Linked DNA regions of Homo sapiens: regions 1 and 2 are each linked to region 3. The links come from fine-mapping of genetic effects on plasma protein levels. A gene starts in region 3. Each other region holds a variant in brackets. All regions are shown on one strand. Distances are from middle to middle.

The links. PIP is the posterior inclusion probability: the model's chance that the variant is causal. The UK Biobank Pharma Proteomics Project read protein levels with antibody pairs (Olink). The fine-mapping took linkage between variants from a reference panel, not from the people measured, so its PIPs are less certain.
Region 1: its variant is fine-mapped to the plasma level of the PROK1 protein (UK Biobank, PIP above 0.99).
Region 2: its variant is fine-mapped to the plasma level of the PROK1 protein (UK Biobank, PIP above 0.99).

The regions. Positions count from the first base shown.
Region 1 is chr1:110,426,566-110,437,372 of GRCh38, reverse strand. No RefSeq gene overlaps it. Among named protein-coding and RNA genes, the nearest start is that of PROK1, 19 kb to the left of the region's middle. RefSeq lists a silencer at 3,280-3,469. The variant C/T (reference allele first, on the strand shown) is at 4,349.
Region 2 is chr1:110,461,137-110,471,979 of GRCh38, reverse strand. No RefSeq gene overlaps it. Among named protein-coding and RNA genes, the nearest start is that of PROK1, 15 kb to the right of the region's middle. The variant T/C (reference allele first, on the strand shown) is at 5,571.
Region 3 is chr1:110,445,923-110,455,129 of GRCh38, reverse strand. It overlaps PROK1 (prokineticin 1), which reads right to left and starts at 3,981. Exons shown (of 3, transcript NM_032414.3): 1 at 3,842-3,981; 2 at 1,044-1,169. The coding sequence starts at 3,913.

The DNA.
Region 1 (10,807 bases), 19 kb after region 3:
TTCACATAGTTGGGGTCCACGTGAGTTCACTTTCTGAAAGGACTTGTGCTTTGACATCTTGGAAGACCAGTGCCTGAGCTCATCTTTGATTTCAGCAGCAGCTGAGATAGAAAATTCCACCTGAGCACAGATTCAGCCAGGTTTTTGGCAATTGCCCTTCTTCCATCCAACTCTGAAGGCAGTTTCAGAAAGAAGAGCCCAGGCTCCCAGCTGCTCCTGCTGAGGTGGAGCCCGTTGTCTGAAGCTGCCTTACAGGGCCTCCTGTCCAAGGACATAAGGTCTCATCAAAATGAAGCATGGGGTTAGTTAGTATGCGCACTTGGCTGGATATTTCCAATAAATTTCTGGACATTCCTATGTGAAATAAATTTCTTCTTGTAAGAGGATCCCTCAGGCACTAGAAACCTCTCTGGTTTATTAGCTCGCTGACCCTCCTATAAATGTCAAAGCCATCCCCTAGATGGGAGCCCAGCAATGTCTTTGAAGTGGCAGAGGCCATAAACATTCCACGACTGCCTTACTAATGGCAGAGGCTCTCACAGACAATCAAGGCCCTTCAGCCTCCTTGCACGCTAGTGACTCCCACACAGGCAGGAAGATGCCAGAGTTGGCGGGAAAGGAGGGCAATTGCTAAAAGCCAGAGGCCCAGAAACGTGGAAAGCTGTGGTCGGCGGGACTCCCTTCCCTGAAGGAGTCAGAGAAGATGTCTTCCCCTTTGTGCTGGCAAGATCAGAGTTCTCAGGAGAGGAGAACCCAGGAGTCAATGCTCCCAGCTAGTCTCCATCTGGTCTAGCTTCTCTCCAGGCATAGTTGGAGCGTGGGCCAAAGAAAACTCAGTCAGGGGACGGCAGGCAGAAAGCCACCAAAGGGCCAAAGCCACTAGTCCTGCCCCTGAGTTTTCTGTGTGTGGTCTCCTCTGGCCTTGATTTTCCACCCACAGAATGGGGTGAACGCCCCTCTGAAAATCACAGAATGTTAGAAGCAACAAAGGCTTAGATCTTCCAGCACAGTCTCTTCAAGTCTGAGCGCGGCTGGTCCAGCTTCCTCCTGGCCAGATCCCTGCTCATCCTATACTGTTGCTCACTCAGTGCTCCCAGGTCACCCCCCAAAATTGTTTCATGGCCCTTTGTTAATTCAAGGCATCTTCCCCAGCACCTGACCTTTTAGGTACAGAGATCACATGTAACCCAAAGGGCAGCACTATTACAAATAGGCCTTCTTAAGTAGCTATTTCCACGGCAAAAAATGAGTGGTGCTCTAGTGCAATTTTTCTAACTATTTGACTATGACCCACCATAAGAAATAAACTAGAGCCCAGCACCCACAAGCACGAATTTATGTTTATATAAAACTAAAATCAAGGGTTTATGAAATAATACTTATCCCTATCACAGGCAATGCACTCTGATATATTTTCTATTCTAGTCTAATCTGTTTCATCTTTTAGTACTGGTTGCAACTCGCTAAACCAGGGATCAGCAAATATTTTCTGCAAAAGGCCTGAGAGTAAATATTTTAGGCTTTGATGACTATATGATCTCTGTCCCAAGTAATTAAATTAACTCTGCCATTGTAGTGGGAAAGCTGCCATTGACAATAGGAAACGAGTGGGGGTAGCGGTGTTCCAATGAAACTTTATTCATACAAATAAATAAAGGCTGAATTTGCCCCATAAGCTGTGATCTAAACTGATTTCATGACCCACTAATGGATCTCAATCCACAGTTTGAAAAACATTGCTGTAGGGGACCACTCCCCAAGTCTTTTCCTCTAACAGAAACCAAGTTTTGCTCAGTGTGTACCTCTCCTACAGGTAATGCAATTCCCCAGGGTACTTAGAAGCTGTGCTTCAGGGGAAGCTGACCATATTCCCAGCACTAGCACTGCATCTTGAACAGTCAACCCACCACATTGTTCACCTGTAACTGCGGATGATCCAGGGGTGTACAGGTGAACTACGCTGGCCTGATTAGTCAGAAGGGAAGGCCATAAAGTCTATGCTTGGGAGAGTGGTTTCTTTCTTTCTACAGCTGGGTGAATCAAGCAATCATGGAGCCCTTCTCCTTCCACCATCGGTAGTTGGAGAGTCGGGACCATCAGAGTAACCAGTCTTAGGAAAAAAGCCAATGCTGAGGATGACAGAGCAGAAAGATGAAAGAACCTGGATCCTTGATTTGACCACATGTTAATTGAATTTAAGCCAGGCTCTCTATCTCTTGTACCCAGAAGCATTCTGATACAAACACAGTACATCAAGAGGCAGGCTCCTGCCCGAAGACAGCACATTGGCTCTATCCCAAACAAATGCAAGCTTCTGGGGAAAGATCAGACAAGTTCCCATTCCAAGCAGCCAGGGACCCAAGCCCTTCACCAGCTGACTGGAGTCCCTCTCCCCAGTGGTGCCAGCCCCACAGAAGCCAGCAGCCTTTAAGGTGTTCTAAGCTCTGGATCCAGTGCTCTTTCCTTCCTCACATAGGCTGGTAAAAGTAGGAGTAAGTGAAATCAGGACCAACTCACTCTATTTTTTTTTCTTTCTTTTTTTTAGATGGAGTCTTGCTCTGTTGCCCAGGCTGGAGTGCAGTGGCACCTCCACCTCTCGGGTTCAAGCGATTCTCAAACCTCAGCCTCCTGAGTAGCTGGGATTACAGGTGCATGCCCCCACACCCAGCTAATTTTTGTATTTTTAGGAAAGACGGGTTTTCACCACGTTGGCCAGGCTCGTCTCGAACTCCTGACCTCAAGTGATCTGCCTGCCTCGACCTCCCGAAGTGCTGGAATTACAATTGTGAGCCACTGTGACCAGCCAACTCACTCTAATTTCTTAATTTAAAAAGCCTCCCATTAGCTGCCTGCTGAAGGAAGGCAGATTCCATGGAAGTTTACATTTTTCAGATGGGTGGTTGTCAGAATAGAAACTTTTCATCCAAATGGGAGATATTGGGCATCCAAGTTGACCCCCGACACCCACCCTGTGGCCTGGGGGGAAACAGACAGGACCACCGCTTTATTGATAAGGCTGCCAGGAGCGAAAAGAAAGGAAAATACTTAATGCCACTGAATCGTACACTCAAAAATGGTTAAAATAGTAAATTCTAAGTTATTCGCATTTCACCACAATTTTAAAAGACTGAAAAGAAGGAAACAGAGTCACATGAGTAGCTCTGAGGGCAGCAGGGCAGGGAGATCACATGTTGAAATCCTACAGAAACTCCTTAGAAAGACAGGCATGAAACACTGTCCTGAGCGTGAGTCTGTACTGCCAGGAAGGCCTGGGTGCAGGTTAGCTCAGGGGTGTGAGTCTGATGGGCTGGTCACACGGGGAAAGGCCTGGGGCTGAGTCAGTGGCAGCAACAAAGCCAGAACCTCCCAGCAGGTGGCTTTCTCTCACTCTCCAGCCTTTCGGCCTGCCCCTGCCCCCACTGTGGGCTGAGAGTGCAGGAGGAGCTTCTGTTGGGCAATCACTCTCAGCAGGCACTGTGACAGGTCCCTAAAAGGGCCAGGAGGATGGAGAGAACTAAGGAAAATGACAAGTTCACCAAGGACTTGGACTAGTTGGTGCCAAGTGCACTTTGTAGGCCCCTGGCCAGCGCCAGGAGGAGACACAAGGGGACAAAGATGCCCAGGTCCCCAGCATCCAAAGCAGAGACTCTGGGTTTCACTCAGAGGCCAATGCTTGTGCAGATAGTAAGAAGGCAGGCAGGCAGGCATTATATCCACTCCTTCCACCCAGCCCAGCTCAGCCTGGCAAATGCTCAGAGAGGGCAACATGGCCCTCTGAGGGGGTGACTCTCCAGAAGAGAGAAGCAAGGCTGAGCTCAGGAAGTAGCTTCTCTCAGGAAGCTTCTTCCTCCATTAGGGTGGAGAGGGAGGAGATGGGGTAGATAACAGTTGTCCTTTTTATCAACTCTATCCCACTAGGCTAGGAGGAGAAGCCCTATAATCCCATGTACCCCCACATGACTGGATATCTGCTCCTTCCTTCTGCTTCTACAGGTTGAACTGTAGGGGATTCCCCTAATAGTGAAATTCCACCGCCATGTAACAAAACCTTGCACGGCAGCAGGGCCTGTGGCAAAACAGAATTTTGCCAGGTATGTGGGAAATAAATGAATGTTTTAAGTGGTCAAGATCTCTCAGTGCTAGTCAAGTAGAGTCATAGAATTAAGGTACTCTACTTAATTTTTTTTTTTTCCTGATCCTGGGAAGGTTCCATGTGAGATTTCCAAAGCAAGTAGAAGTTTGGAGATATGGCCTGATGAGACCTGCAGGTAGACAAGACTACTGGAGAAGCAAGATCCATCTTCCTGCACCCCATGAATAGCACGTCCTTAGCACTTGGACACAATCA[C/T]GCACACACACACCTGCCTATAACATTTTTCTCTCCGGGCCAGGCGCGGTGGCTCACGCCTGTAATCCCAGCACTTGGGGAGGCTGAAGCGGGTGAATCACTTGAGGTTAGGAATTCGAGACCAGCCTGACCAACATGATGAAACCCTGTCTCTACTAAAAATATAAAAATTAGCCGGGTGTGTTGGTGCACGCCTGTAATCCCAGCTACTCAGGGGGAGACTGAGGCACAAGAATCACTTGAACCCGGGAGTCTGAGGTTGCAGTGAGCCGAGATCATGCCACTGCACTCCAGCCTGGGTGACAGAGCAAGACTCTATCTCAGGGAAAAAAAAAAAAAATATATATATATATATATATATATATATATTTCCTTCCTTCCTTTCCCCTTCCTTCCTTCCCTTCTTTCTCTTTCTTTCTTTCTTTCTCTCTTTCTTTCTTTCTTTCTTTCTCCCTTTCCCCTTCCCTTCCCTTCCCTTCCTGACCTAACAAGCTGAGCTTCCTGACAGCTAGTCCGATATTCAATCTTCGCTAATGGGATCTTCATCTCTAACCGGGAGCCTCAAAAATTTGTAACCCCCAGAAACATACTCTGGGTAGAGGAGGCAGGAGATTCGAAGGACTGAGAGATACACAGGAAAGAGATAAGGCGAGGAGCTCCCAGCCTGGTCGCCCATTTATAACAGTATTTATTGAGCACTTACTGTGTGCCAGGCACTGCCCATGCATTATCTCACATGATCCTCCCACCAACCCCAAAAAATAGGTATTCTTGAGGGGAGCAGGGTACAAGGCAATGGAAAGGACATAGGCTTTGAGATCTGCTCTTAGATTCAACTACTCCTTGCCATATATCATTTGGGGAAATTGATAGGCAAACAGATCATTTCAGTCCAGTAAATACAGGCTATCCCAGGATAGCTTTTACAGGTCCTGCAGTGATCAAAAGAAAAGGCTTTGTGGAGGAAGGATGCTTGAACTGCAGGGGGAGTGAAGTGCACTCTGCAGACATGCACAGAAGATGTTCCAGTCAGAATAAATTATGTTTATGGCAGCAGAAACACAATGCAGTCCACCTGGGGAGTGGCGGAGACAGAGACTGGCCTCTGGGAGGCAAGGCTAGAGTTTTGTCTACCATGCCAATGAATTTAGGTTTCATCTTGCTGGTGATGAAGGACCATCTAAAGGAATCGTGTGTTACATGAGGAGACCTTCAGCAAGGGAGAGGTGGATGAGTGAGGCCATGCCTGGAGATGCTGGGCCAGCTAGCAGACAGTTTCAACAGGCAGAGTCACATGAGGAGAGCCCAAAGGCAGCAGGAAGGGAGTGGGGCCGAAGGAGTGAACTTCAGAGGCTTTCAGGTCCTAGAGTAGGATGAGAGAGAAAGAAGAATAGGAGACGGTTAAGGTTGGGGCCTGGAGAGCTGTACAGATATTGATGCTATTCGCCAATCCAGGACATGCAGAAGGAGCATGCATCAGCCCCGGGCCCGCAGGAAAGAGGGAGCCACTCAAACTAGGATAATGCACAGAGGGTGTTTTCACAAAGGTGTGAGCGTGGTGTCGGATAAAGGCAGGACTAATGCAGTAACCTAGAGCCAGTAGCAGTGGAGTGAAGGAGCTTCTCCCATCACCCAGCCAGAAGACCAGGAGGAGAACAGCTACCTGGACCAGAAGGAGAGGGTCTTGTAGAGAAGCTCCCTTGAGAGGATCCCCTTCTGCCAAGGGACAGCCAACCTAGGTGGTCTTGCTGGGAGCATGACAGAGGAGTTAATTCCCCGGTTTCATGTTCCTCCTTTCCTCCACTCCTCTGAGGGTTACTAGCCAAATCCACCGAAGGCAGCCACCAAGACATCCTCACAGATCAGCCTCCCAGGACACACAGCAGGGCAAAGAAGGTGGAGATGGATGGGAGGGGAGCAAGGAGCAGATTTGGAGGAGTGCAGCATGGTCCTAGGAGAGCGCCATCCCTGCTGCCCCTAGCTGTGTGGCCTTGGCCAGGTTACCTAACTTCTCTAATCCTCAGAGAGAGGTTGGGGCTGAATACTCAGGAGTCTTCAGTGGAAAGGTGGATGCCATGGGTGTGCTGCGATTTCCTGGAGAAGGTGTAGCTTAGAGGGGAACTGGGGCAGGCTGAAGAGTGAGAGTCAGGGTACGAGGCTGGGGAGGAGCCACCACACAGTCAGCAGTAGCTTCCTCCTCTGGGATCCTCTAGCATTTTCTCTTTAACTTCTCACAGAAGACTTTACAGATTTTATTGCCACTGCTTCCGTGTGCCTCCCATCAGAGTGTGAGCACCTTTGTTCCTCAGTCCCTCAAGGCCGATGCATGGTCAGCCCTTGTTAGTTGAGTGAATGAACAAACAACACTGAAGAAGCTGCCCTTGAAAAACCGGGGCATCGGTTAAGGGCTTTGAGCAGAGGATAGAAGACAGTGGAGGAGGAGGCTCAGGAGGAAGTGGGATGTCAAGCTGTGGGGCAGCTGCAAGACCTTGCATGCATTTGGTGGAAATTTCCTAGGGGCTACCAGGGGGCAGGCTGTGCTTGGGACTAGAGGCTAGAGAGGTGGGGAAGGCTCAGTCTCTGTGCTCAAGAGACAGCCCTCTGGACAGAGCACGGCAGCTCCTCCATGACACAGCTGTCCACAAGCTTCGGAGCACAGCTCCTTGTTAGTGAGTGGTGGTGTTAGGCAGGTGGGGAGGTGGGGGAAGTTGAAAGGTATCCTGGGGATGAGCAAAGTCTGATTTGGGGGTGAAGGGGAACATGCAACAATGAACCCAGTTCAATGTTTAGGGCAAACGTTTAATGCAGGAAGCAGTGAGAGGTAAGACTGGAGCCATAAGCAGGCAGAAGCTCATGGAGACCCAAGTGCCCAGATGTGGACTTTTCCTTATAGGCAGTGGAGCTCCCTGAAGGGTTCTGAAGCAGAGAAGAGCATACATAGTCAGGTGTGCTTCTTACCTGGACTACTGCTGAGGGATATTTAGGATGCAGCATCCTCTGGATGGTTGCTATAATAATAACTATTGTGACAAAGCTTCTTCCTGTGGAGCTGTTGTGTTTGCAAATCGGACCAAGGTCCCAGGCATCCAGGCCATGGAGCTAAGTTCCTAGCCCAGGTCTCTGGTCAGGGCATAAGTCATTCAGTGTGCCAAACCTCTGAAAGGTAGCCCGGCCCCTTTATTTACCATACTACACACAGCCAGTTCACCTTCTCCTCCTGAGCACCTGGAAAAGCTAACAGATGTGCCACGGTTCAACACAGCTTTTCTGTGCTGCTATTACAAACCCACAAGATTGAGTGGGGATCATGGTCTGTGAGTTGCCATGAAGAAGCAAATAATCGGCTGGGCGCAGTGGCTCACACCTGTAATCCCAGCACTTTGGGAGGCCAAGATGGGCGGATCACCTGAGGTCGGGAGTTCGAGACCAGCCTGACCAACATGCAAAAACCCCGTCTCTACCAAAAATACAAAATTAGCTGGGCATGGTGGCACATGCCTGTAATCCCAGCTACTTGGGAGGCTGAGGCAGAAGAATCACTTGAACCCAGGAGGCGGAGGTTGCGGTGAGCTGAGATCATACCATTGCACTCCAGCCTGGGCAAGAAGAGCAAAACTTCATCTCAAAAAAAAAAAAGAAAAAAAAAAAAGAAGAAGAAGAAAAAGCAAATAGTCATTTGCCAGAACCTGAAGCCACAGAGCCACTGAGCTCCATAATCCCTTGCATAGGCTGAGTCGTGCAAACACTTGGGGGAAAAAATCAGGATGGTGTGAACATAGTGTTGAGGGAGTGTTAGAGCAGAGAGCAGCCTGCCCACATGGCCCATCAGGACACAAAGCCAGGATCTCGCAACGTGAATGGAATATTACCTCCACCCTGTGTTGATTGAATGAGGCAATCAGCAGAAGCTGCTATGAGAATACTGATGGCCAAAGCTAAATATTGGGTGATAAATCTGTGCTGGCTAATTTTTCACTACAATAAGTCAGCCACATGCTTCTGGGAAGCCCCTGGGAACCCCGGCCCAGTTCAGGGACTTCATTGCTCTATTCTTCTCATTAAAGAATAGGCCAGATGCAGTGGCTCATTCCTGTAATCCCAGCACTTTGGGAGGCCAAGGTGGGTGGCTCACCTGAAGTAAGGAGTTTGAGACCAGCCTGGACAACATGGTGAAACCCCACCTCTACTAAAAATACAAAACTTAGCCGGGCATGGTGGCACATGCCTGTAATCTCAGCTACTTGGGAGGCTGAGGCACTAGAATTGCTTGAACCCGGCTCTGCCTCTTGCCTGCCTCAGGGAGAAGGGCAACCCAGCCCCTGCTTCAAGGGACCCTGACAAGAGGTGAGAAGAGTCCCAGGGCTGGACTAGGAACAGGCAGGAAAGGAGGCTACCTGTGGCAATGTCAGGAGAAACATATTCAGTCTTAAATAAGAAAATGGGGCTGGATATGGTAGCTCATGCCTGTAAACCCAGCACTTTGGGAGGCTAAGGTGGATGGAATGCTTGAGGCCAGGAGTTTGAAACCAGCCTGGCTAACATGGCGCAACTCTTTCTCTACTAAAAATACAAAATTTAGCAGGCATGGTGGCACACACCTGTAATCCCAGCTACGTGGGAGGCTGAGGCACGAGAATCACTTGAGCCCGGGAGGCAGAGATTGCAGTGAGCTGGGATAGTGTCACTGCACTCCAGCCTGGGTGACAGAGTGAAGAAAGAAAGAAAATCATAGGATCAGAATAAGAATCCTTGGCTCTCTTCAACCTAACTTCCTCCATCTGCTTCCACTTCTCCCGCCACCTCCTGCCCTCATTCTTCATTTTATTTTTTTAATATATATTTTGTAGAGATGGGATCTTGCCATGTTGCCCAGGCTGGTCTCAAACTCCTGGCCTCAAGCAATCCTCCCATCTCAGCCTCCCAAAGTGCTGGGATTATAGGCATGAGCCACCATGCCCAGCTCTGCCCTCATTCTTATGAGGAAACAGGCAAATGAACCAACCTAAGGGCCTTCTAAGTATTCTATCTAATAAGAACTTGATATACAATTCCTGCTTGTGATTATAAACTAATTCAGGAATGTCAAAGGATTTCATTCCAGGTCAGTGCTGACTGATTCGTAATGGCTGCCTGGAGAAGTATGTTGAGACTGAGTCTGAAGCTGCTTCTAGGCTCAGTGGGGAGGGTGCCAATGTTGATTGGTGATGCCTGCCATGGGTGCAGGATAGGAAAATGCTGGCACACATGCCATGTATTTTCTAAATAGGGGACTCTACAATGAAATAATTCACCTACAGTGGAAAATATCAATGAGATAACCACAGGCCCAGGATAAAGGGAGTTTCAACTCCTTGTGGGAGGTCCTAGTTATGTTTCTGCCTCTGATCACATTGCACTTTGGCAATGCAATTATAAGCCTCCTGATTCAGGTCACCCTTTTGGAGTCATAGATCTTCTTTGAGAGTTATGGATTGTTGGTGTTGAGAATTGAGTTATAACCCATCAATGCTTTCCCCATTTCTAGAAGTCCATGGAATAAACTTTTTTTTTCAACATTTTGATAAGGAGTCCTGGGGCTGAGCCCTGAAAAGGCCTGCCTCCCAAGATGCCAGTCCCTTCTAAGGAAGTCACCCCGTCCTGGCCATCCTGGACAGAGGCCATGTGACCATGCACATGGGCTAAGATGACTCCTATAGGCTCGTAGGATTTCCCTAAAAAATGAAATATTCTTCATTTTTTCCTCAATGTTTGCCCTCTTAAAGTGGCTCTTTTCAGCTCTGAGCAAAATAAGACCTAGCACCTTCAGATTTCTAGGTCATGGTTCCCTTCACATCCGTGGAAGTTCACTTTGAAAATTGTCTCCCAGAGCCCAGTAACTGATTCCCTTCAGGAAGCAGGGACTGAGGTGGCTGCAAGGGCACAGCCATTCAAAAGGGGATGTGCCTCTTCCTCTACACAGTTCCTGCTCGTTCCAGATAACTGTGGTGGTGAAGGGCCACGCTGCCTCTGGGGCATCCTGCTACAAATGGCACTCTAGTCACGTATGGGTGGTGTCTCTCTCTCTCTCTCCTGCTTGCTCCCCAGCCCAGGATGGGCTTTAAACAAGATAACAGATTCCCCCTGAATAGAACTTCTGTTGGAAAGGAGACTTCAGTGTCCCCCTAAGATGCAGGCCAGAAAGGAGGCATTCAAACAGACACAGGAGAAAACAAAATTGGGCAGAACATGCCTTGGACAGAAGAGTTAAGCATGGGATTGAAGATCATTTATTGATATCAGGAAATAGTAATATTAGATAGCTAAGTGGAAAATGCTAGAAGCAAAAAAGAATATACAATGTGATTTCACTTTGCCTGTGTGTGTGTGTGCACACAGAGAGTAAAGACTGAAAAGAAAAAGAAATAAAAATGTTAACATTTTTGTCTTGGCAAGTTGGCATTGCTAATACTGGGGGTTATT
Region 2 (10,843 bases), 16 kb before region 3:
TTTTTATACATAAAATATATAAATATATTACATATTATATAATATAATATATATTTTAATACCTAGAGAGAGTGAGAGAGAGAAAAGCAGAGGGGAAGGGGAGAGGGAGGAATAGCGGACAGAAAAATAATGCAAATGTGGTGAGGTGTCAACATTTCTGATATTTGGGTTAAGGTATGTAAGAACTCTTTCTGCAAGTTTGAAATTATGTCTAAATAAAAAGATTTTAAAGATTGAGATAATCCAAAGGCCTCTCCAAAACCATATTTATAAATTTGACACATGCCACCCCGCATGTCCAGAGGAAGAAGGTGGAAACTAGACAGGGAGAGAGCCGGTTACTCACAGCCTAGGGCCCTGCCCCGGGAAACAGGCAAATGGATCCAAATTCACTGGGGGCTGCAGGGAAGTGGGGTTAGCAGACAGGTCCTAAATCCCATTTCAGAGTATTTTTCAGGTAGGGAGGTAAAAAGAAGAGGAAAGCAGAGTGGGAGAGAGGAGGATGGGGTGAGAAGTTTCTCTGGTAGGAAACAGGTCCCTTCCAGCTCTGTCCCCACCACCACACAATACCTAGGCACCAAGACTGGACAGGGCAGTCCTAAAATGGGATGACGAAGATGGACATACAGAACACGAGCCCTCTGCAGGACAATGAGGCATTAGCACCAGGTCACACATCTTGAGATCGTGATTGATTTGCTTTGTAAATACAGTTTGTGCTGGGCACTGTGGCTCATACCTGTAATCCTACCACTTCCAGAGGCAGAGGCAGGTGGATCACTTGAGCCCAGGAGTTCAAGACCAGCCTGGGCAACATGGTGAGACCCTGTCTCCAGAAAAAAATACAAAAATTAGCCAGGGGTGGTGGTGCATGCCTGTAATCCCAGCTACTCAGGAGGCTGAGGCTGAGGGAGGATTGCTTGAGCCAGGGAAGTAGAGGCTGCAGTGAGCCAAGATAGCACCACTGCGCTCCAGCCTGGGCAACAGAGCAAGACCCTGTCTCGAAAGAAAGAAAGAAAGTTGTAAGGAATCGCTTAGTAGTTGGGAAGGAAAACTGGTTCAAAATTTAATGTTTAAGATCTTCATAATATTAGATTTGGTGAGGTCTCCTTGATATGACACCAAAAGCACAAGAAACAAAGGGAAAAATAGATAAATGGGACTACATCAAAACTTAAAACCTTTGTGCATGAAATGACACACATCAACGAAGTGAAAAGGCAACCCATGGAATGGGGGAAAATGTTTGCAAATCATATATCTGATAGGGGCTAATATCCAGAATATGTAAAGAACTTCTACAAAAAACAAATAACTTGATTTATTCTTTTTCCCTTTTTTTTTTTTTTTTTTTGAGACAGAGTCTTGCTCTATCGCCCAGGCTGGAGTGCAATGACGTGATCTCAACTCACTGCAACCTCCACCTCCCAGGTTCAAGTGATTCTCCTGCCTCAGCTTCCCGAGTAGCTGGGATTACAGGCACCCGCCACCACACTCGGCTCATTTTTGTATTTTTAGTAGACGGGGTTTCACCATCTTGGCCAGGCTGGTCTTGAACTCATGACCTCATGATCCACCCACCTCGGCCTCCCAAAGTGCTGGGATTACAGGCATGAGCCACCACGCCCAGCCATAACTTGATTTTTAAATGGGCCAATGACTTGAATAGAAGTGATTTCTTCAAAGAAGAGATACAAATGGCCAAGAAACGTATTAAAATATGCTCAACATCACTAATTATTAGGGAAATACAAATCAAGACTACAATGAGATATCACATCACACACATTAGGATGGCTGCTATCAAAAGAAGGGAATAGGGGAAGAAGGAAGGGAAGGGAGGAGGGAAGGAAGGAAAAGGAGGGAGGGAAGGAAGAAGGGAAGGAAGGAAGGGAGAGAAAACGAGTGTTAGCAAATACTTAGAGAAGCTGGAAACCTTGTATATTGCTGGTATGCATGTGAAATCGTGCAGCCACTATGGAAAACAGTATGGCAATTCCTCAAAAAATTAAAAGTAGAACACTGTATGATTCAATAATTCCACTTGTGGGATTCTTCAGTTCACTCAGATGAATTGAAAGCTGGGTTCCAAAAAGATATTTGTATACCCATGTTTGTAGCAGCATTATGCACAATAGCCAAAAGGTAGGATCAAGTGTCCATCCACAGAGGAATGGATAAACAAAATGTGGCATATGTGTGTATGTCTGTGTGTGTGTGTGTGTGTGTGTGTGTATATATATATATGAATATTATTCAGTCTTAAAAAGAAAGGACATTCTAACACGTGCTACAAAATTGATGAATCTTGAAGATGCTATGTTAAGTGAGATAAGCCAGTCACAAAAAGACAAATACTGTATGATTCCGCTTATGTGAAGCACACAGAGGAGTCAAATTCAGAGACAGAAAGTAGAATGGTGGTTTCCAGGAGCTGGGACCAGGGAGAGAATGGGGATTTATTGTTTAATGGGTACAGAGTTTCAGTTTGGGAAGATGAAAAATTTCTGGAAATGGATGGTGGTGATGTTTGCCCAAGAACATGAATTTACTCAATGCTGCTGAACCATACCCTTAAAAATGATTAAAATGGTAACTTCTATGTCACATATACAACACAGTAAAAAAATAGGTTTACTTGTAAATAAAAATCAGTATACTCTTATGAACCAAATATCATAAACTATAATCTAATGAATGGAATATGCACCTTTTGAAAACTCAGAATATAAAGAGGGACACCTTCAGGTTTTATGTTCTGTCTTTGAACATCTGCAAAACTCACTCCTCCCTGGCCTGGTCACTGTGAAAAGTAGAGGGACAGGGTCTCAATCATGGGGTTTTCAGGAGTAGAGGCGACCTTGGCAATGTCTCTTACACAGCCCTGGGTCCCTGAGTGCCCACTGTGTGCTCAGCGCCCCTGCTCTGCCCTTGTGACAGTCATCCCTCCCAGCCTCGGCGTCCTCATCTGGAAACATCTTCTACCTTGTAGGTTTTTTGTGATGATCAGTGAGGCCATGCAAGGTGCCTGGCAACAGCAGGCACTCGATGAATGCAAGCTCTTATTATTCTCCTCTCATCTAGTCATCACCAAGAGCATGCAGGGTGGTTGCTATTATCTATATTTTACAAATGAGAAAAATGAAGCTTAAAGAACTTAAGTCGTTACTCAGCTCCAAGATGAGAAGACAGTGTTGCCAGGATTTCAATCCAGGACCAGTTCAACTCCAGAATCCATGATCTTTCTACCCCAGCCTCTCAGGCCTCATTTAACAGATAAGAAACATGAGGCTCAGTGACATTGGCAAGGGTGAAAGCCCAGATGACCACAGGGGCCAGGCAGGTAATGGAGAAGAATATGTTAGCTGATGTAAAAAAAAAAAAAAAATCGCCTACCAGAGATTCTACCAAATTATATCTATTTTTACTAAACTAAGGAGTAGGCATGTAACATTTTATGGGCCTACAAAATACTAGAGATTGTGCTTCAAATTCTAAATTTAAAAATAAATGTTGAAAAATAATTTTAGGAGAAACCAGATCAAAAAAGAAAAAAATGCAATTAATTTAATTATCTTCCAAATTGCTTCATTTCAGATGTCTCACTATGTTGCCCAGGCTGGTCTCGAACTCCTGGCCTCAAGCAATCCTCCCACCTCAGCCTCCCAAAGTTCTGGGATAACAAGCATGAGCCACCAGGCCCAGTGTCCTTCCAATTTTTTTTTTTTTTTTTTTTTTGAGACAGAGTCTCACTCTGTCACCAGGCTGGAGTGCAGCGGCGCAATCTCGGCTCACTGCAACCTCGGCCTGCCAGGTTCAAGCGATTCTCCTGCCTCAGCCTCCTGAGTAGCTGGGATTACGGCGCACACCATCAGGCCTGGCTAATTTTTGTATTTTTAATAGAGACGGGGTTTCACCATGTTGGCCAGGATGGTCTCGATCTCCTGACCTCGTGATCCGCCTGCCTCGGCCTCCCAAACTGCTGGGATTGCAGGTGCGAGCCAACGCACCTGGCCCCAATTTATTTTTTAAGCATAATGCAGGCCAACACCTGCAGACCAAATTGTCTGCAGGTCAGATGCTAACCCCAGCCACCAGATGGCCACCCTGAGGAAGGTATAGTGGAGGCCAAGATCAATGGCGGGTTCAGGAACATTTGAAAAGAAAGATAATATCACAAGTTAGTGCCACTGTGGGAACCCACACTAGGGATGCCAGGATTTGCCATTTTCCAAGAGATACAGGAAATGTGGATGTGGGGAGAAATATACCAGCTTTGAAATAAGAGCAACCATTTGTTTTTGCACTGTGCAGACAAAATAGCAGAGGTCTATAGGGCAAGCCTCTCCTCCCACCCAGTGACAGTCTACAGGATGAGCCACTTCACATATTGGCAAAGCCCAGACTAAAGAAAAATCTCCAGACTCCCAGGCCGTGATGGAACCAACCAGTGTCTTCTCCAGCCTGGACCAGTCCAGAATGGGAGCAGGAGGTCCCGAGGGGAAAGGATGGAAGGGGGAAGGAGACTGGCGGATGCCCAACCCCGACAGTCCCAGCTGAAGGAGACAGGTGTACAGACACTGGGGCATCAAACTCTGACTCTGACTTCAGGGTTCAATTATTTTCTTCTGTCAGATTTTTGCCCAAAGCTATACCCAAAGATTTTCAGTAATCCCACGTCAGTGGAAGGACTGCACAACATCTAGCCACATTAATTAAAGAGGATTTTTTTCCTCTGAGACGAACGTGTGTTAAAAATATCAAATATTAATCACTGGCAACATTAATTTATAATAACGCTTGTCTCCCTCTCAGCTTCTAAGTTGACATCTGGCATGACTGCTTTGAAACTAACACCCGCTCCATTGCAGGAATTATAAATAGCCTGAGTTAAAATCTTCACCTTGAACTGAACAGACTGACTCCACGGGGTGGTTTACGAATGAAGAGGGCTGCAGCATGCAGTAAAATCCGGGGTGGGTCTACTTGGGGTAACAGTCAAAGAATTTTTTTAAGGCAGCAATCCTGAAGCAGGGAAGGGTCAGGGAGAGGGGTATGAGCACAGAGGGCCCTGCCCTGCTTCCTCCTCATGGGGCAGGGTGCCCAGGTGCAGGGCTGCAGGAGGCCAGCCTCACTCCCACTTGGCCCATTTCATGAGCCATCAGCGGAGGGGGTGGGCACAGGCTGTTCTATTCCACCCTGATTAAGTGCACAATCCAGTTTCTATACTTGAGTTTTGAGGATTGGTTGGTGCAGACACTGTCTTTTATTGAAGAGAGGGCAGAGCCCACTTTATATAAAGAGAAGAAAAAATTCATCTATCAGCCTACAAAGCACGTTCACTCCATAAGCCTATCTAGTAGTGATATTCACAGTTACTGTGGCTCCTCTCTGTGCCAGCCTGGGGCTTGCTCCTCGTATTTAGTCCTCACAACAACATCACAAGATAAGCTCTAATGGGAACCTATTTTACCAATGAGGAAATTGAGTTAGAGGAGCAAATTCCCCCAGGTCCTGTAGCTAGGCAGTTGGCGGGTGGAGCAGGATTCAAACCAAGAAGAGTGAGTGAA[T/C]GGGGCCTTTTTGCTTCACTCCTTTCCAACATTTCTCAAGCTGCTAAAACTCTAGCTTGCCAGACTTCCTCTCCAGAAATCCAGATCCAGTGGCTCTGGGATGCGGCACAGGACCCTGGGTACTTCACAAGCACCCCAGGTGAGTTTAACCCTAGGGGAGTTTGGGGGAGCACTGCCGAGGGTGCCCTCGTGACAGCCTGTGGGCAGCCAGGGGTTACTGTTCCTGTTTACCAGACGTGGAAACAGACCCTGACTCCTCAGGGTGCTGAGATGAGACTTTTGGTCCCAGGACCGCCAAGAGGACCTCTGACCACCAGCCTGAAGGTCAGAGAGAGGACAGAGCAGGAAGACAGGGCGCCTTGTAGAGTGGGAAATAGTGGGGACAGAGTCTGAGAAATAGGGTGGGAGACGTTGGGGGCAGTATATGGTCCCACTTCTGATTGCATCCAGCTCCTCAAGGGCTCAGGGGACCTCTGGGGCAACCCAGAAAAGCCCCTTGTGGCCTACATGCTTTGCAGTTAGGCCACCTCCAGGGGACACTGGGGCCCCAACTTGTCCAACTAAGACTGCAACAGGGAGATAAGGCAAGAACCCTCTCTCTCATCTTTCCCTGGCTGGGGCCAAATTCCCGTGGGTGCTTAGCTCCCCTGAGACCCCTCACAGGCTCTTTCCTCTGACCCTACCTCCCTGGGCCTGCACCAGAGCCTCTTCTCAGGCCCCTTCTTGAAGGCTAATGAGACCAGGCATGGCCAGCCTGACACTGCAGGCTCTCAAATGTCTCATTGTCCTCCCCTCACGCTGACAGTAAGCTGCAGGCTGCCTCTGCCCATGGGGCTACTGCTACTAAGATACCACCCCCAGCAGCTCCTGCAGTGGGGCAGCTCCCAGGAGAGGGTCCTGGGCCCCGCCTTCTGTTGCCCTGACTCTCTGACACCCCCTGGAGACCCTGAGCATTGCATCTGGCAGCCCAGGTCCTTGTCTCATCCCTTCCCAGCTGAGCCCCAGATGGGTCCAGGGAGTGTGTATGTAGAACACATGTTGCCTCCTGGTCTGGGCCTCAGAGCAGCCAGCTCAGCCTCCTCACCTGCAAGGCTTTCCAGAGTCCAGGTGGGGGCCCAGCTGTTTGCCTTAAAGTGCACGGAAATGACTGCCTTTCAAGGGACCTCCTCTCTCTCCTGCGCAACTGCTCCTCTCTGTATTCTTTTTCCCCCTTTGCACTTTGATGACTCAGGTTTTCACAGGCACAATAGTTCCCCCTTTGAAACCTAATTCTGGATGGGCACAGACCCAGGTGCGCACACACACCCTTCTTCCTCCCTCTCCCGGGCTTGCTAGTCCTTGCTTTAGCATGAAGACTACCCTCTATCTTAGCTGGAACTTCTCCTAATGGAAACTAGCCTCTCTGCCACTTGGAAAGAAAAGTAGAATTTTCATTATTTGTTTAACTGATTTCCTTCAAAGGTTGGGGTGATGGGTTAGGGTAGTGTTTCTCTGGGAGTGGGAGGTACAAGGAGCACCTGCATCAGAGTCCAAGCTGTAGAGGGGCTTGTTGAAGGCCCCACAGAAGCAGAGTCTTCCTTTGGTGCTTGGCAGTAACGTCTTCCTTTGGTGCTTGGGAACTGGTGGTCTAGGGGGTGAGCAACATTCCCTAGCACTGCCTCCTTCTAGAAGGGAGTCGCAGCAACAGTGAGGCCTGTCTCAGGGAACACACATGGTTTGGGAGGTTTGATTTGGACACAATCTGAGAGGAGCCAGGACAGACTTCAAAGCCCACTCTCCTTATGCTTTTTCTACCAAAAAAAAAAAAAGAATAGCACAGTATTAAGATCATAGCCCATATTGAGCAAACATTCCATTTTACTGTGAAACAGTGACTCATATGTTTAAGCAAGGTATTAAGAAGTACTTAGATAAGATTTGTGTATCTGTGTTCCCAAATGGAGCTGTTATTGAGCTCTGCCTACATAAACCTGTGCTTCTAAACTTCAAGATAATAACAGAACATGATCTGAACAAACTGATTTCTTCCTACCATGTTCAGCTTCTGGGGAATTGAAGCACATCCGAGAAAAGATTGTTCGTTCCTTCCTGGACATCTTATTGGTTTACCTCACTGAAGAGATCCCTCCAGGTAATGCTAGTGTGGTGTGCTGGTTACAACACGTAGGTGCTATTTTTATTATTGCCATTGTACAGATGGGGAAACTGAGGTACTGAGAGGTTTAGTAACTTTGGGTCCAAAGTCTCTAGTAAGCATCCAAACTAGGGTTCGAACTCAGGCAGTCTGTGCAGTGAACCACTGTGCTAACCCCCCGTCAGGAAACATAAGGGAGCTTTGCCGCTAATTTGATGAGAAATGCCAATCGAGCAAAATGTAAAATAACAAGAACATGTCAAGCTGCCATTTGACATATTTGTTTACTTAATCTTTGGGGTTTAGCTTTGAGACAGAATTTCACAGGCTCCTCCATGACTCGTCTCCGTCAGAAATGTGCCCACGTCTTCTTACTCACACCAGTGTTTCTCTCTGTTTAGATCCAGTTAATCCTCCTCATTAATCTTCAGCTCCCAAATAAAGGCCCCTCTGTCCTCACTAGACCCAGAATATTTTCCTGCCCTGTACCAGGCCAGCCCCCGCAGGAGCTCCGAATCCTTTTGAGAACCACACTCGTGTTTTTCTCCCAAGGTACACAGAAACAAATATGTCTGTGACTGACGCGCAGCAGAGTCTATCGAGTAGGCAGGGGGCTGAGACAGGAAAGGATCTTTTGGACAAAAGGACCATAAATCATATCCTTCCTGTGACCTGGACCAAGTGGTCTTCCCAAGACCCAAGCACTGCCCCTCAGGTGAGCAGAGAACTGGGACAGGACACAGCAGAGTGGCAGGGACCTAGGGTGTGGCTGCAGACCATGGCTGTGTGCAGGCCCCAGCAGAGCCCTTTGTCATAAATATGGGATGGAAAACCTCAGCAGGGAAGCTGACTCTTTCGTTCACCTAAAGTTGTTCACCTCAGTGATTCTGTGGCTTTGGGCTTCTGAGTCTAGCCATGGCCCCAACCAGGGTTGGAGCAAGAGGTGGCAACCCATCTTTCAACCTTATTCCTTGTCAGGGTCAGCTGTCCAGGGTGTAGTTCTAAAGGGGGCACAAAACATCCCTGCAGTCAATAGAAGACTCAGAGCCAGTTAAGGCCTGTGCCAGATAACTCAGCCACTACATAGGGATCTCTCTGTTCCCACCAGGGTGGGCAGTGCCCTCCAGTGGAAAACAAAAATTCCTTGCACTCATCTTAAGATGCAGTCCCAGGAAACTGAAACCCCAGACTGCAGAGTGCACAGTATAGTGCTTTTGTTCTGCTCATAGGCAGTTTCTTTAATCATCTAAATTGAAAACAGTTTAGTATGCCATTGGTGTAAAAGATGTTTGGGGTAGAAAACCACATATAACAAATGCCTTATTTGGTACATTAGCAAAGAAATACACAGTTTGGGTTAATGTCAAATCGTTCTCTTCAGCCTACAAAACAAATATTAAATGAACATTTTTTAAAATATCCATTTGAAGGAATATCAAGTCACAGTCCAGCCCAGAACACCCACCCTCCTCACTCCTGATGTGCCCCAGGGCTTGAGGATCTCCTGGGTCCCTGGAAGCACCAAAACTCAGAAACTGTGAGCCCCGGCCCCTTCCTGACCTCATCTTTTCGATTCTACAAACCGAAGTTGTAGAGCTATTTTTTTTTCTTTTTTACTTTTTGGATTTTAGTATTTTTAAAACAGCTTTATGGTGATATAATTTACATACCAGACCATTCACCCATTTAAAATATACATTTCAAATAATTTTTAGGATACTCACAGAGTTGTGCCACCATGCCTACTAACTAATTTTGAACATTCTTATGGCTCCAAAAAGAACATTAACAGTCACCGCCTATTTTCCTACCTGCAGCCCACCCCAGCCCTGGGCAACAGCTAATCTACTTTCTGTCTCTACAGAGTTACCTATTCAGGACATTTCCCATAAATAGAATTATACAAGATGTGGCCTTCTGTGACTGGCTCTTTCACCCAGCATGATGTTTTCAAGGTTCCTCCATGTTATGGTGTATATCAATACTTCATTCTTTTTCATGGCTGCATAATACTCCATTGTGTGGATATAGTGTGTTTTATTCATTCACTTGTCATTCGATGGAGAAAACCTGTTTGTTTAACAATGGCTCTTATTGTTTTCCTTTCCAGCTCCCAATCAGAACAGGTGTCCCCAAAGATACCCAGACAGAGAATGTGCCCCCAGGCCACCTTGTGCTTCCTTCCCCCACTGGTAGAATCTGATTTTTTGACAACCCAGGCGAATCCTCAAGGTTGACTCTTGGGCTAGACTCACAGGTCAAGGCCGACTACTGGGCCAGGCGCAGTGGCTCACACCTGTAATCCCAGTGCTTTGGGAGGCCAAGGCAGGAGGAATGCTTGAGACCTGGAGTTTGAGACCAGCCTGGGCAGTATATGGGTCACATTTTCAAGTAGCAATTTCTGGAACTCAGTGATTGTCACTGTCAAGGGTATGAAGAAGTAGGAATGCTGCTGTGGTCTGAATGTCCCCCTGAATTTATGTGTTGAAATTTAACCACCCATGCAATAATATTAAGAGGTGGAGCCTTGCGGGTGATTAGGTCAGAATAGGATCTGCCCTTGTGAATGGGATTAGTGCCCTAATAAAAGGGCTCCAGGGAACTAGCCAGCCCCTTTTGCCCTTCTACCTTCTGCCATATGAGGATAAAAAGAAAGCCTTGAGCAGACACTGAATCTGCTGGTGCCTTGATCTTGGACTTCTCAGCCTCCAGAATTATGAGAAATACATTTCTGTTCTTCATAAATTACTCGGTCACAGGTATTTTGTTATAGCAGCAGAAACGGAGTAAGACAAACATCAAGTGTTGCCCTCCATAGCTCGAGGGTCTTGGCCCCACCTCAGCCCCTGCCCAAGCACAGCCACCCTAGACAAAACACACACTCTAAGTAAAATCCAGCTGTCATTCGTCCTGCAAATTCAACTCTGAAGCAGGTCCCCAACCTCGGAGCCTCTGCTGAGCTGACCTTTCCCTTTGGCTTTGGGAGGCTTCCTGCTCCTCCTTGGGTCTCACCTCTGGCCACTGCCTCCTGGGGCCTCAGAAGGGGATCACTGGACAGGAGGAACAGCAGTCAGCATGCACTCACCTGTGCCTGCTCAGTCATCAGCCAGTTGGCATTCTATGGACTACACTGTCCCAT
Region 3 (9,207 bases):
ACCATTTGCATTTTAATGAAAAAGCTGTGGGAATTGGGAGCTTCACTGGTTAACTGGTAAAGTGTGGTAAAGTGGCTCCAGAGAGGGAGAGCAGCAGGGATGCTGTGGCTCCAGAGGACTCTGGACTGGGAGCTGGAGGTCAAGGAGTGGGAGCAAGGCAGGAGCTATGTACTTAGGCCACAAGAGAGAGTGACTTCTTAAAGTGGGCACCTCACTTGCCTCACTGTAGGCCTGACCAGGTGTGGAAGGCGATTTTGTGGGTCTACTTTTGTGTCCCTGAAGGGAAGTTCTTACAGAGCAAAGGGCATGTGAGATCCTTCCCAAATCTGAATTCATCAGATCCATAAGGGACATTAGAGGTAGTGAGTTTGCTCCACTCATCATATAAGTGTGGCCTGAGAGCAGGTGAGGTAGTTTGCCCAAGTCCACACAGCAAATTAGGGGCTGGGAATGCCCAGCTTGTTTAACAGCCTATAAGATCAGTGGCACCCCTCCACCTGAGGCTGCCCCCCAAAAACAAGGAGGCAGTGCCCAACATCAGTGAGGTATGACTAGAGGTGGCATCGGAAAACTGCAGTTCCAGTCCCAGCTCTGTCTCATTGGTTGTGTGCCTTGAGCAAGTCACATGACTTTGCTGTATGTCAGTTTCCTCAGCATTGCCCAGGGTTGCAGTGAGGATCAAATAAAGATCAGTGGTTCTCCAACCTGTGCTAGAAGTTTGTAGATGAATTATGTCAGGCCCTGTACAAATAAATGTACAAATGTGTCATCTGCAGGGCACTAAGTAAGGTGGATGCCTGTTGATGGCAGGGGCACAGCAACCCCATAGCCTTCTGCTTCCCCTTGGACATTCAGGGGCTGGATCAGGGCTGGATCAGCTATCAGAGGAGGGTGAAGTCCTCTGGAGCCACAGCCTCCCTAGACTGCCTCTCTGGAGCCAGCCTCTCTAGCCTTCCTAGCTAGAGCAAGGCCCCAGGACATCACCCTCTGCTCCCCGCATGGCCCACCCACATATGTGCACCTATGCAGTGTCTGCAGAGTACCTTGTGGCTGCCGGGGTGGCACTCCTCGCCTTCCCGCCCCAGCGGGGTGCACATCCGCAGCCCTCGAAGCCACAGGCTGATGGCACAGCAGGTGCCTGCCCCACACTGGACATCCCGCTCACAGGCCTGTAGGAGGGAGAGAGAAGGGAACAGTTCATTAGTGCACCCAAGAGAAAGCAGAAGGGAAGGGTAGATCCAAAAAGCCCTTATCAGGATGGAGCAAGAAGAGGCTGAGAGTATCACCCCCGGCCTTAGCCTAACAGAACACCCTGGGCCACACTTTATTGCCTTGCTCCCCTCGTGGGGAGGCTCAGGGCTCAGGGGGGCATTGGATCTGGATCTGAGGAAACTTCCAAGCTCCTGGAGGCCACTCAGAAGGAAGACAGTCCTCCTTTTCTGACAAGGCTGGAGGTTAGAAGGCATAGCTTTTCTAGGGCTAAGTAGATGCTCAGTGGATGCTGGTGGAATTGAATTAATTAGAATTCTCAGAGGTGGGAGGGACCCTGATGGCCCAAATTCCTTGGTGGTCAGTACTGAGCTGCCTTGGACCAGGAGTCTCCAGCCCTGACTCTGCACTGTGGTCAGTCCCTCCCCTCTGCATGGAGGCACCCCCATCCTGGCCCTCAAGTGGCCCAGCCTCAGCAGAGGGGCCAGCACCCCAGTGAACAGGTGCCTCTCCCAGGGTTTCTCTACTGACTTCCATGATTCCCAGAGAGGATCGCAGAACAGGAGCTGAGCGGCCCTGCCTGGTTTGGGGAAGGTACCATTTGTAAAGAAGGCCACATTAAATAAGCTCACATTTAACATGAGCCCACGTTAAATAAAAGCCAGAGCCGGGGAAGACAGAACTCTTAACTGCTCCAGACTCAGGTGGGGACCTGCTGAAGAAGCATCCACACTTGCCATTCTCAGAGATGCTATGTGGCTTTTCTGAGCTGAAATGCAAAGCTGGGTTTTGGATCACTCTTCTCCAATAAAAGCCTATGGGCACCTTCAGGCTGCTGTGTGGGACGTGGCAGGACCTGGAAGCCTCCTACTTGCTCAGACCCAAGAGGGAAAGAGTGGATGTCAGCTCCACAGATCATGCAGAGGAGTTACGGGTGGTGGGCACCCAGCTGTGCCTGTCTCCAGCCCAGCAAGGGCACGTCTCACACCCAGCCAGGCCACAAAAGCTTGGGGTTGGGGTAAAGGAAACCCCAGTCGACTCTTCTTCTCCCATAGAGGTGGGGCATCACTGTCCCACTCTTGGAAGAAGGATCATAAAGCCTTGGATGTGGGGACAGTTACAGTCCAGGGAGCAGGGGAGTGTAGAGGTGGTGGAGCCTGGGCTCCTGCTGAAAATCAGAAGTGGGACACCAGCAGGACATGGAGGATGTGGGGAGCCTGGGGGTTCCTGACTTCCCCTTACTGCCCTGTTCTCACCACTCACCTGTCTTTCCTGGGTTTCCCTCACCTAGGGAAAAGTGCTCTCTATTGTGCTTTTCACCGTGAAAATGTTTGCCTGCCGCTCTCAGATCTGCCTGCCCTGCTGTCACTCTGGGCCAGTGCTGGAGCTGGCACGGGTGGTGAGGCAAGCCTGGCATCCAGGCCAACCACGCTGCTCCTGCCCTCACCGCGCAGCAGCCGGGGCTTCTCTCCATTGTTCTTGCCCTCCCAGATTTTCAAGCTACCCCATAGAAGGGCAGCCTACAGTGTAAACACTTCATTAGGTATAATTCTGCCTTCACAATTATTTTTATTTTTGCTTTGGATCTCAAAAGCATTTGACTCGCCTTTAATATTTGTTCTTTTGAACTCAGTGTTTTTCCTTTAAAAGAGAAAAGAAAGAATTTGTCCTTTCTGTGAATGGTAAAATTAACCCAATTCCAGGAATTGTTTGGCATTTCTCTACATTTCCACTATCCATGTAAAAAGCTGGTGGAGGCTGAACTAAAAGTTAGTTTCCCTGCTTCCCCGACCTTTTTCTTCCAGTGGATTTTATATGGAAAGCTCTCAGGTACAGCATTGCTTTCTGCTTCAGTAAGAATGGTCCTGCTACCATAACACATCATGTGCCCCTATTTGAAGGTGGTTTGAGGTAAAAGCAAACTTCCGAGAGAAAACCATGATCTGAATATTTTGAACCAATTGTACAGTGCCCATATGCTGAACCTTTGCTTCTCTGCTTCGAGACTGGATATCTACTTGTTATCTGGATGCTTGCTTTGGGGTACACTCAGCTGAATGTTAGTGGCACCCATATTCCTCTCAGAACTAACTAGGCAGGCACAGAGTGAAAGAGTTTCAAAGATATCCTTTCTAAGCGGAGGTTAAGTTTATACAATAGAAGTTTATAAGCTTACCACCTTTAATTAAGCTTACTGCCTTTAATTAAGTCAACATGCTATGTAAATTAATATTAATATTAATATGTGAATCAGACCATAAATAAAAATTAAAATTCACACAAAAGATAAGTTAAGGTTTGCCAATCCACTTTATAAAGGAATTCCTTATTACTTAATAGGAATCTTCACTTTACCAAAGGACTGAACTTCAAAATGTTCAATGCTCTGCTAACACATTGAAAACAGGATTTGATTCATACACAGCTTCTCAAAAGCAGATCCCATTTAGTAGAGTGAGGTCTAACTAGTCTGAAAATCGCATGCAATCCCTTTAATGCATAATTCCCCATTCCCTTTGGTTCACACTGTGTTGAGCCAACAGAGCCTCCTGCATGGTTCCTGGGCTCACAACCCGTGCAGACCCTGACATCTTCCCAAAACCCAAGGCACAGAGAATGTTAGGCGACTTACCCCTGTGATCACAGCACAGTCAGACACAGTTACTAGGAGGAGCATGATTGAGACTCGCGTGGCACCTCTCATGGTCACTTGGGGTGAAGGCAAAACACTGCCTGCTTAGATGCCTCTCGCTTCCTCCCGCTCAGCCTTGTGCCTGGCAAGCTGGGGAGGCCAGGCTCTCCTGCATCCCCCGCCTCCTCCCAGATGTTTACACTCAGGATCCAGGGCTGCCTGTGGATGCCTCATCTCTGCTCTTCCCTTCTCCAACACCGATGTTACTCAGATGATCTCAGAAGCGAAGATGAGACCTGAATCTCTAACAACATCAAATCAACATCAAAACCAATAAAAATGGATACTTGGGGGGCTTTGACGGTTGCTCTAACTCTCCCAAGAACGCAGTGATTCAGACAGTTATGTATATTTCACTCAATGTTCTTTTCTGCCTCTGGGTATCCTTCTATCCTACTTGGGGCAGAGGAAAGCCTCTGGTAATGAATTAAGGGATTTGCAACATCACCATTTATGCTTCCCTGCACCAAACTATGCAACATACAAGATTATTGGTTCCCTCTCACTCACACCAAGACTTATCTAGGCATTTACCATGGGCTCAACACAGAGGTAGCTGAGAAGACAGAAGAGGGTGAGGTGGTATCCTTATTTCTCTAAAAGGTTAAAATTATAGTGAGGAGCCATAAGACAGTGAGGAAAAAAAGACCAGACTTGTGGGGCTGATGTTCCTAAGTGACACACACATAAGGATTTGCTCTCTCATGGGCTCAGGATGAACACCAGCAAGTGTCCCTTGGTACAATGACCCAAGGGCAGAAAGCCAGCAAACATACAGGGCACACACTCTCTCAGTACCCTGCAGAGCCGAGCTGGTATGGGCTGTGGCTGAAAGGTACCAGAGCCACACCACTGGCCTTCCAGTTTTAGGGGTGAGCATGAGAGTGGCCTTATCCGTGAGTGTATAAACACGGTGGTCTCAGATGCCAGTCTGGTGGGAAGTTGACTTTCGGGATGGCCCCTCCGCCTGTGAGGGAAGCCCCTGACCCCAGCCCTCTCTGTGTCATACGACCCAGAGAGAGCTCCCAGTGCTTTGTCAGATGATCTGCCTTCTCTCCACAGTAATAAAAGCCAACATTTCCCAAGGTATGTGTTGCAATATGTTAATACACAAATAAACAAATAAAAGACTTCTACAGTCAAAAATTTGGGAAACACAAACCGGCTTGTTTTTTGCAGAACTTTTCAGGGCCTTTCATATGCTAATAAGTGTTTGAAACACCAAGTGGGAAATGCAGTTTGTAGTATTTCACAAGCAGATTCATCCACAAAACCTTTCTTATCAAATGTCACAGGGGTCTAGGGTTTCCACATTGAAACGCTGATAGGCATTTATGAGTGCAGAGAGGAAGGTTAACTAGCACGGGAGCTGGGAGCTAAGCCCCCAGAGGCAGATGCTTTGATTCAGATCGATGGCTTCATGACCTTGAAAATATTGCTAATCTCTCCAAGCCTCAGTTTTCCTATCTATAACATGGGATAAGAATAGCATTTACATCATACGATTTTGCGAGTATTCATCTATTTATTTATTCATTGACTATATTTATTGAGAGCCTACTGTATAGAAGACACTGTTCTTGGCACTGGGAATATAGCAGTGAACAAAACAAAACCCTGTCCTCATGTAATTTTGACTATAGTCAAGGAGACGGGTAATAGACAAATAAACAGATTTGTAATAAAATGGCCAGTTGTGTTGAGCACTGTTAAAAAGGAAGGCCAGGCGCAGTGGCTCATGCTTGTAATCCCAGCACTTAGAAGGTAGAGGCAGGCGGATCACTTGAGGTCAGGAGTTCGAGACCAGCCTGGTCAACATGGTGAAACCCCATCTCTAGTAAAAATATAAAAATTAGCCAGCTGTGGTGGCTCACGCCTGTAATCCCAGCTACTCGGGAGGCTGAGGCAAGAGAATCACTTGAACCTGGGAGGCAGAGGTTGCAGTGAGCCGAGATCGCGCCACTGCACTCCAGCCTGGGCAACAAAACGAGACTCCATCTCAAAAAATAAAAAAAAGGTGGTGGGGAGAAAGGCAGGGAAAGCAACAGACCTTGACAAGTGGTGATATTTTAGATGTGGTAAGGGTCTGTCTGAGAAGGCACTTGTGCAGATGACTGATAAAGTGAAGGAGTGAGCTGGACAGAGCCTGGATGAAAAGTCAGTGCAACAACCCTGTGGCAGGGCTTTTTGGCCAGTTCCAGGAGAAGCAAAGAGTGAGGTGAGCCAGGGGACGGGATGGGAGGGGATGCAGTTGGAGCAGGAGCCAAAGACCAAATCCAGCCTGCCTTGTGGGACATGGCAGGAACCTGACTCCAAGTGTGATGGGAACCCTTGGAGAGTTTGGAGCAGGGGAGAGGCAGGATCTGGTATACACTTGGATTTTTTTTAGAGACAAGGTCTTGCTCTGTTAGCCAGGTTGAAGTGTGATTATAGCTCACTGCAGCCTGGAACTCCTGGGCTCAAGCGATGCTCCTGCCTCAGCCTCCAGAGTAGCTAGGACTGTAGACACACACCACCGCACCTGGCCTGATTCACACCTTGAAAGGATCCCTCTGACTGCAGATGGAGAGTTAAGTGAGGTGATGCATATGAAGTGCTTACCACAATGCCTGGCACACAGCAGCATTTGCTACCAATGGCCAGTTTTTTCTATAAACATATGAACTTGTATGCCTTAATATAAAATTCTCCTGGGAGGTGAGAATCAAAATAATGAGTCTGTAAGGCCCACCTGTACACTGTGACACTGGGCCGGGCTGGTGACAGAAGAATCAAGAGACCATCCGAGCCTTGGAGGACCTTCTGCTCTGGGAGAAAAGCTACCTAGGGAGGAGGCAGCACTTTGCTGGGGGCTTGGAACACCTTACAGAAGTGGTCCTGTGGGCTCTGCTTGCCCTGCACACACTACCCCACCTCACAAGTTTGCCTTCCAAGAGACAATGTCAGATCAGGTGATTCTCAGGCTAACACCCGTCCCATTCGCTCCCCTATTCTCACTCCCTCCCTCCCCACTGCCACAAACACACAAAACTAATCATCTCACAATTGCAGTGAAGAATGGTAGCAAGAAATGCTGTTGCAAAACAAAACCAATAGCATTGATTAAAAGCATTTTATTTCTCTTGAATGCTAGTGCTTGAGGAAAAGCCATTTTAATTAGAGGAGGACAAGGGACAGAGGGCAACTTGGTGGAAATCCCAGAAGAGACTCTGAGGAGCTCCGGGGATAAGCAGTACTGATTCTTTATTCAATAACTCAATTACACATTCATTCAGTTCCTTCCATGTGTCAGGACCAGGAACTCGCACTTCTAGGGTCTAATTTCCCTCTAGACCTTAGAGCTCTCCTGTTCCCTTGTCTAGGTGGATTTCAACAGTACTTGATTCTTTTTTGCCATGGTTAGGGTTACTTTTTGGCTGCCAGGTGCAGTGTGGAAAAGGACAGTGGAAAGGAGAGGAAAACCCTGAACTAAGCAAGCATGAACTGGAGGAGACAAAGGAGGGAAGCCGGAGGGGAGGTGAGACAAGAAGCAAGTGGTAAAAAATGGAGGGGAAACGGTGAAAGTGCTAAAAGTGGACTTGGTTCCGCTGAGGGAGGAGAGAGCTAGTGGAGAAGATGTGCCGGGCAAGCCTTTCCCAGAATCCTACACACCTGCGGAGAGAATGAGGGCAGGTGGGCAGCATGCCATTGAGTGTCTGTGTAGAAGGGCTACGTGCAGTTCACATCTCATAACGTCAGCCTGGCCCTTATTTCTCTGCTTTAGCTGATGTCAGTGTCACCATGGACCATTTATACAGATGTGTGTGTGTGCGCGTGTAGCAACAGCCAATCTCAAGGCCTACCTTGAGGGGCCCCTCAAGATGTAGGGCGACCTTCTCATGGAGTGAGACTATGGAGTGGAATATTCCCTGACCTGGCATAGTCCTCTGAGACTGTTTACCTTCAGGCATGGAGTAAGTCTCACCTAAGCATGGGGGAGAGGTTGAGAAGCCCCTTTCCACTCTACCTTAAGATCATGGTTATTGTTCTGCAAGCTAGAAAGGGAGCCCATGTCCAGGGGTCTCCTTGCTCCTGCCTGAGTGGGCGGATCTTGTGTTAATGTTTGAGCACATGTGTTCAAATATGCTCCCTTTGGCTGGGTGCAGTGGCTCACGCCTGTAATCTCAGCACTTTGGGAGGCAGAGGCAAGTGGATCACCTGAGGTCAGGAGTTCGAGACCAGCCTGGCCAACATGGTGAAACCCTATCTGTACTAAGAATACAAAAATTAGCCAGGCCTGATAGCATGTGCCTGTAATCCCAGCTACTCGGGAGGCTGAGGCAGGAGAATCACTTGAACCTGGAAGGCGGAGGTTGCAGTGAGCCCAGATCACATCTCTACCTGGGTGACAGAGTGAGACTCTGTCTCAAAGAAAAAAAAAATGCTCCCTTTATTACTGGTTTGTTGCTAATGATTAAACAAGAATTAACTCTGATCCGTTTCAAAAAGAGATGAAGAAAGGAATAATAGAATAAAGGAAACCCAAGCATCCAGGCTGGGGGTTGTTAACTTGGAGTCACAGCCCTGAGGAGCTCATGAGCAGAATTCAGAGAATCCATAAACTTGGTAGAGAGAAAAATTGCATCTTAATGTTCACTAACTTCTAACTGAATTTTTAACATTTTCTTTGAACCATAGGCCACAAACTACAAAAGTTTTAACAGTACCGTGATTTTGTTGCCAGGAGAAATTACAGATGTTTTTATGTCATATTACTATTGCTTCAAATAGCTCCAAATATCATTCCTGCTCATCACTACCTTGAAATCACTGTAGTTACTAGGCTCCTTGCTAGATTGTTACTTGATCCATTAATAAAGAAGTGCATGTATTACCATGTCACAAATTTGTTTTTAATAAATATCTTGATAACTTTATTTTAATAAACTTGATATTTTTTATAATCTTACATATTGTATTTTATACATTTGAAGTCATTATTCTGAGCCATAGGCTTCAAAGGGGCCTACAGCACAATAGCCAAGAACTCCGGGGGTAAACTCTGGAGACTCGGAGCAAAGGAAAGATGCAGCTTAGTACAGTGCAGGGTCATAAATTCAGGCCAGCTGAAAGCCTGAATTTAAACTGGACAAATCTAAGAAGAATTGGAAGAGGAGGAGGAAGAGAAGAACAAGGAGAAAAAAGAAGAAGAAAACAAAATAGAAAGAGAAGAGTACCATCCTGGCTAACATGGTGAAACCCCGTCTCTACTAAAAATACAAAAAAATTAGCCGGGCGTGGTGGCGGGCACCTGTAGTTCCAGCTAC